Homo sapiens: one gene and its partner. The protein of the gene in region 2 interacts with the protein of the main gene of each other region in a biochemical or structural test. Each region holds a gene or a part of one and is shown on either strand. Other genes may lie near its edges.

Region 1 (3,009 bases), on a different chromosome or scaffold from region 2:
ACTTGTTCACCTCACACCTCGATCCCTCAAAGTAGGCAGTGCAGCGGCATTGTCGGGAGCCATCAGCAGCCATCTGGCATGTGCCAAAGTTCTCACAGTAGCCAGAGCACTGCCCTGTGGTTGGGGAGGGAGAGAAGTGCCTCAAGCCCCACCCTCATGAGGGCTCTCCATAGGTTGAACAGAGCTTTTCTGTTTGCATAATCTTGGTGCAGGGGGTGCACTGCCTCAGGGGAAGTGTGCCAGCACCTTTGTGGGGAAGCGCCAGCAGCTTGGGCCTGGCTCAGCTGCATAAGGCCTTCTTTCCTGAACTTGCCCCTGTGGGTCCCAGGCACAGGTTGAACATCACCCCATGCTCTGGGGTCCCCCGTCACCCTCCCGCATGCCCTGGGGCCCAGGGATGGCTCACTCACGGTACTGGCAGCGGTCGCCCAGGAAGCCGGGTAGGCATCGGCACTGGGGCTGGTTGCCCTGGTTGACAGTGCAGGTGCTGTTGTTGGCACAGTAGCCCGCACACACCTGCTGGGTGCATTTGGGGCCCGTGAAGCCCGTGGGGCACCGGCACGTGGGCATGCCTGGTGGGAGAGGATGTGTGAGCGCGACTGTGGCCCTCGAGACCACCTGGCCCTATAGCAGAGGAATGGGCTGGGGGGACCTGGGCGAGAAGCAGAGACTGGAGTGACTGGATGCTGGGTTGTGGAAAGGAGGCTGGAGGCGAGGCAGGGGCTGGGCATTTGCCTGAGGTGGGGTGGTGGGTGGCGGGGCTGGGGCCCAGGGGCAAGGAGCAGGCGTGGCGGGATGAGGGGGCATACCAGAGGGGGAGGCAGCACAGGTGCCCCCATTGCGACAGTGCTCCCAGCACTGGTCCAGTTCACACTTGTCACCCGTGTAGCGGGGTTGGCAGCGGCACTTGGGCTGCCTCCGTGCATTGAGGAAACAGCTGCCACCGTTGAAGCACTGCAGGTTACAGGTTCCAGGCCGGGGAGCTGCAGGAAGGGCCCGTCAAGGGGCAGAGCCAGGGGAATAGGAGGAGAGGGACAGGCAACAAGGTCAGGGGAAGTCAGGAGCCACAGGAAGGAGATGGTCCTGAGGCATGGCTGGGACTGGGAGGGCATAAGCATACCATCTGGGGGGGGCGTTGGAGAGGGCACAGGCACGCATGTGCCGTTGTCCAGCCGCTTCCCATTGGGACAGGTGCAGACAGGCCCACTGGGGCTCAGCAGGCAGAGCCACTCGCATTTCTTGCGGTCACATGGGTTGGTCACTGCAGGTATGGGTGGGGTGGGGAGGATGCTGAGCAGGACCCTTCTCTGAGCCCTGTGAGCCCAGGGTGACCCCCTCTCCACCAGGTCCCAGGGCCACAGCTTGGAGACTCAATGCCCACAGGCCTCCCTTCCCCAGCCCAGGCTCCCCTCTGCCCCCACCTTCGGGCTGCTTGTGCTGATGGTAAAGGACCACGTCAGAGGCGTGGCTCAGGCCCCCTGTCAGGTTGACCAAGGGGCTGTGGCCAAACTTATGGATCTTGAAGACACGATTATTGATGTAGGTGACACCATAGATGTAATCCTCAAAGACGTCGATGCTGAAGGGGTGACTTAGGCCTGGGGGAGGAGGTGGAGTCAGAGGGGACCTGAGGGGCACTCAGGCCCTGGCCATGCTGTCCACGACACTGGCACCTGTGGTTCCCAGACACCTCAAACTCAACACATCCAGACCAAATTCTCTCTCCCCACACCGGTTCCTCCTCCTGTGGCCACTACTGGCAAAAGGTCCCATCACCCCCAGACTTCTGGGGTCAGTCATGACTGACTTCTATTCCTTCTCCCCCAATTTGCTACGTTCCTAATGTACCTATGCTGCCTCCGTGCAACCCAACCAATGAATGGACAAGTAGGCCAGAGGGTCAGGGTGGGTCTCAGGCCTGCAGGGCTGGTTCAGGGGGAGGCCAGCTGGAGAGGCCTGGAAGGCGCTGCAGCATTGCTGGGGGTCAGTGACAAAGGATGGGAGGCATTGAAGTGAGGCCTTTGGCTCAGTAGGGAGGATGGCAAGGCTGGGGACAGGGCTGGGGACTGCGACTTATGCCGGGCTCTGACCTCGTTTGCTGTCAGCAGCCACAATGGGGTCCGTGCCATTGAGCCGGATGCTGCCGATGACTGAAAGCTTGGCGTCTGCCCAGTACAGCCGCTCATTGTGATAATCCACGGCCAGGCCTGGGGAGAGAGAGAGCACTGTGAGAGCTTGGCCTCCCCAACCCAGGCTCGGGGTGGAAAGAACTGCCTCCATGCCCGGGACAGCTCCACCCTGTTCATACGCCACTCACAGTCACCTCTTTCGGGAAAAGCCTCCACGGCCAATCTGCCCTGCCCCAGTCCAAGCCCCATCCCATCCCTTGCTTTTGTGTGACTTCAGCAGCAGCTGGGCTCTGCGAGCCGGGCCCCCTCCATGCCCGTCCCTCCTGCACCCTGCCCCACAAACCTGTGGGCCACTGAATGTTGTCCTGCACCAGTGTCTCCCGAAGCGTCCCATCCATCGCTGCCGTCTCAATCTTGGGGTGGTTGCCCCAGTCTGACCAGTACATGGTCCTGGGGAGGGAGAAGGGGTGAGTGTGGGCAGGCCGGAGGGCCAGAGGAGGCAGGCCCAGGCAGGACACCAGCTTCTTGGTCTGGGGACAGGGACTGCTGGGGACTGGGAGGAGGGCATTCTGTCCTTCTACAGAGAAGCAGGCGGGAGTCTGCTTCTGAGCAGGTTGAGGGGCTTTTCCTCTAAAACCACAGTGTGCTCATTCAGAGCCACCGACGCTGGCAGAGCTGTTCCCCAGGGCAGAGTGTGGCTGTGCATGACAGCCGGCCAAGCAGAGGTCAGATCCCTGCCCAAGCAGGCCCAGCTGGGGGCCCTGGGCAGAGGCAGCATGGGGAGGGCCAGGCAGGGGTGGCCGAGAAGACCCAAGGGACTGAAAAGGACTCTGTCCTCAGGCTGGCCTGGGAGGGAAGGGCACGCATGTGGGTGCAGCCC
Region 2 (3,820 bases):
CAAGCATTTCCTACAATGACTCTTCCAAGTGAGTGGACATTGATTATCCAAACATATCAGTAAATTATTAGGTACCTAAGAGACCTGAAAAAGATGATTGCAGCTATAAAAATGCACAATTTGTTTCCAAGAAGTAGCATAGAAATGAAAGTTCTAACAACACACTAGATTTTCTCCCTTTTCTTGTGTCTTTCTATTCTCCGTACATCGTGGATAAAATAGTTTATAGAAGGAAGTAGCATGATCAGAAACATCTCCATTTAACTGTCACAAATTGGAGTGTGCAAAAGCTAAAATTTTGTTTATTTCCTGTAGCTTATCTTGCTTTCAAGAGACTATTCCACCAGCCTCTAGTGGTTTACAGCAGTCTCTTTATAGAAAATATTCAGTCAATTCAAAAAGCCTTTGTCCAAAAGAGCAACTGGCTACCAAGTTTTAATGCCAGCACCTGCTGTTGAAGTTCACGCTGGTTCCCCTTACTACTAAGCCCTCGAGAAGTCTTTTCACCTGTGGCCTCCTTGATGAAGCCACAGCCCTATTCTGATTCACAAGTTCTTTCCGCCAAGCCACCCGAGGAGCCTGGAACTCCAGCTCCTTTCTTCACACCACATAGAGCCTGTGAATCTATCTTCAGCACATGCCATAGCCGTTGCTGCTCCGCTGTTGGACATGGTGCCAGGGGCAAATGTGGAGTTTCTTTTCAGGGCTGGCTATTTTCAGGACTGTGCTCTCGAAACAAAAAGAAAAACTTGATGTAATGGAGGGTTCCTAAGAAAGCAAATGATCTTTTGCTTGATTTCTTCTGCCCATTTTCCCAGGTACTCCCACCACGAAGGGAAATGCAAGGCCATTTGTGTGTCTTTCTCTCCTCTTCCTCTCAGGCCTCTTGGGGCTGTGCACTCACCACTTCCCCTTCCTGTCTGTGAGGGTCTCTACCTATATCATATTCTACATGTTCTCTACCCTGTAGCTTTTAGTAAAACACTATCTGCAGACCAGTAAGATTTTCACAACATATGCAAAGAGAAGTTTCTTCTGTTTAGAAATTCTCCCACTCAATAAAGCCTGATTTTCAATACAATGTCTTTCTAGAGACATAAGAAAGCCAGCTTTGAGTCTCAATGCTAAGCAATAATTTTCCTTGTTCTAGACCAGTATTCTCAAACTTGAGTGTACATCAGAATCACCTGGAAGATTTCTGAAACCAGGGATTGCTTGGCCCCAGCAGCAGTTTCCTATTCAGTAGGTCTGGGGTGGGGTTTGAGAATTTGCATTTCTAACCAAGTTCCCAGGTGATACTGATGCTGCTGACCCAGAGACTTCACTTTAAGAACCACTATTCTAGACACAATCACACTTGTTCTTCAAGCAGTGGATGACCTTGACTTAATGAACTGGGGAGATGTAGGAAATTTTATTTAAGAAAATTAAGAAATACAATGGCTGAATGTTTTCAAAAAGTTTAACTTTATCATAAATGATACTTAGGTATTGTTACCCTTTAGAGCAAGGAATCTTCCCCAAACATAAGAAAAGAGATAATGAATGGGAATCAGAAAGCTCTGATTCTATAATCAAGTACTCAACTCAAATTATAGAGCATATAAATTTTGTAAGATAAAATCAGAGACCAGTAGAGATATTGCTGCTATGGCCTCCGAAAGACTGAAAAGAATGTTGACAACAACTTTGTAAATAATATTCACAAGTATCCCTTAGCATCTAATTAATAGGGCTTAATACGAATCTAGCTTTCAGAAGTTGTATAAAACCACCTAGGCCAGGCGTGGTGGCTCACGCCTGTAATCCCAGCACTTTGGGAGGCCAAGGCGGCTGGATCACAAGGTCAGGAGATTGAGACCATCCTGGCTAACACAGTGAAGCCCCGTATCTACTAAAAATACAAAAAAAAAATTAGCCGGGCTTGGTGGCAGGCCCTTGTAGTTCCAGCTACTTGGGAGGCTGAGGCAGAAGAATGGGGTGAACCCGGGAGGTGGAGCTTGCAGTGAGCCGAGATTGCGCCACTGCACTCCAGCCTGGGAGACAGCAAGACTCTGTCTCAAAAAAAAACAAAAAAACAAACAAACAAAAAAAAAAACCGTCTAAAGTGTGCAATTACTTTTTAACTTCTAGGGAATTTAAAGTGTTTTTTTTTTTTTAATCATGATTTTTAAATGTCAAGCTCAGGTTGCAGCAGGTCTGTTAGATTGTGGTGACAGTGTGAAGGAGTGGGCGTTACAATCTTTGCATTCATTGGATCAAAACTGCAGAGGTAAACCTCACCTTCTATTCCGCAGTACATAACTATAGTAGGTACTTAGAATGAACTCAGGAAAAGAAAGGCAAAAGACAAAAACATTCAAATCCAACCATGAAGACTCTAAACTTATTTTGTTTTGTACAAATGTAGGAACTGAGGCCTAAATATACAAAGGCCAAATATTACAAAGCTTATTAATAGAGCCAGGTATAATAGTTAAGTCTTCAAACTGTGAGGCCAGGGCTCTATTTTTATAAGTTGGCAATACATAAATAGATATAATCAGGAAAAAAAGTAAAGTGAATAGTGTGTATTGCTTTTTTAGTGAGTGATGAATTTATATAATTCAAATCTTTTTGTTGTTGTTACATTTATCCCACTTACAACTGAAAACATTTATTTTCAGGAGCAACAAAACTCTCCCTGTTTTGTTTTGTTTTGTTTTTCAGATTAAATGCCCTTATTCTTGTCATCAGAGCAGCATCAGACTCAACCTGTGATATTGTAGGAGATAATTGCCCTTATTAGTCTATAATTTTTTAAGTGTCTTTTTTATGCTGCTAAGGGCCTGTTATTATATGAATAGTTTACAAATCAAAGCACATTGCCATCTCCACACAAAAGGATGGGTTGTAATTTTGGACGCAATTAAAGAAGGCCGTGAACCTTTCTGTAATAATAACTTTTAAAAATTAAAATAGAAATCAAACCGTTTGGCCCCATGCTGGGCTGTGTACTTTATTAATATAAATGGATACTCTATGGGAGTTATTTTAAAAGGACAGGTGAGAAATAAAAGACCTCTTTTTCATGCTGCATACTTTTGCAAACTAACTCTAAACTCATAACTGCCTGCTTGGATACTTGTAAATATCTGTGTAAGTTTCAGCTACAAGGATAATCTTGGTATTTAAGAGATGCTGAATCCGTGGAAATTATCAGCTTCCTTTTTTTTTTTTTTTTTTTGAGACGGAGTCTCGCTCTGTTCCCCAAACTGGAGTGCAGTGGCATGATCTCGGCTCACTGCAAGCTCCGCCTCCCAGGTTCATGCCATTCTCCTGCCTCAGCCTCCTGAGTAGCTGGGACTACAGGCGCCGGCTAATTCTTAGTATTTTTAGTAGAGACAGGGTTTCACCGTGTTAGCCAGGATGGTCTCGATCTCCTGATCTCATGATCTGCCCGCCTCGGCCTCCCAAAGTGCTGGGATTACAGGCATGAGCCACCACGACCGGCCTATCAGCTTCCTTTGACTGGAGACATTGCTTCTCCAAAAATGTGCTGAACCTGTATATTTCCCAGTTTCTCAATGGGGCATTTGATGGTTCCTAGATTATAACCCTGGCATTTAAAGCTACGGTAATAGTACCACCCAAATAAAGCCAGGCTCTGCTTGGTACTGTGGCTTTGCCACATTCTAGCTATATGATTTTGGACACATTGCATAACCTCAGTGCCCCATCCATAAAGTGAAGATAGTAGTGCCCTTCCCATAGGGCTGTTGTGAGGATTAAATAAGTTAATACAAATCACATACTTATGATACGGTACTTAGTAAACACT

The links.
Region 1: the proteins of CALCR (region 2) and LRP1 form a complex in vitro, tested with the Homo sapiens proteins (one study listed by BioGRID).

Annotation. Positions count from the first base shown.
Region 1 is NC_000012.12:57,208,281-57,211,289, reverse strand, and holds part of LRP1 (prolow-density lipoprotein receptor-related protein 1 preproprotein), read right to left. Parts: intron 2,580-3,009; coding exon 2,473-2,579; intron 2,208-2,472; coding exon 2,091-2,207; intron 1,599-2,090; coding exon 1,422-1,598; intron 1,262-1,421; coding exon 1,121-1,261; intron 984-1,120; coding exon 810-983; intron 573-809; coding exon 411-572; intron 115-410; coding exon 1-114. UniProt on the Homo sapiens protein: Endocytic receptor involved in endocytosis and in phagocytosis of apoptotic cells. Required for early embryonic development. Involved in cellular lipid homeostasis.
Region 2 is NC_000007.14:93,428,193-93,432,012, reverse strand, and holds part of CALCR (calcitonin receptor isoform 2 precursor), read left to right. Parts: intron 1-3,820. UniProt on the Homo sapiens protein: G protein-coupled receptor activated by ligand peptides amylin (IAPP), calcitonin (CT/CALCA) and calcitonin gene-related peptide type 1 (CGRP1/CALCA).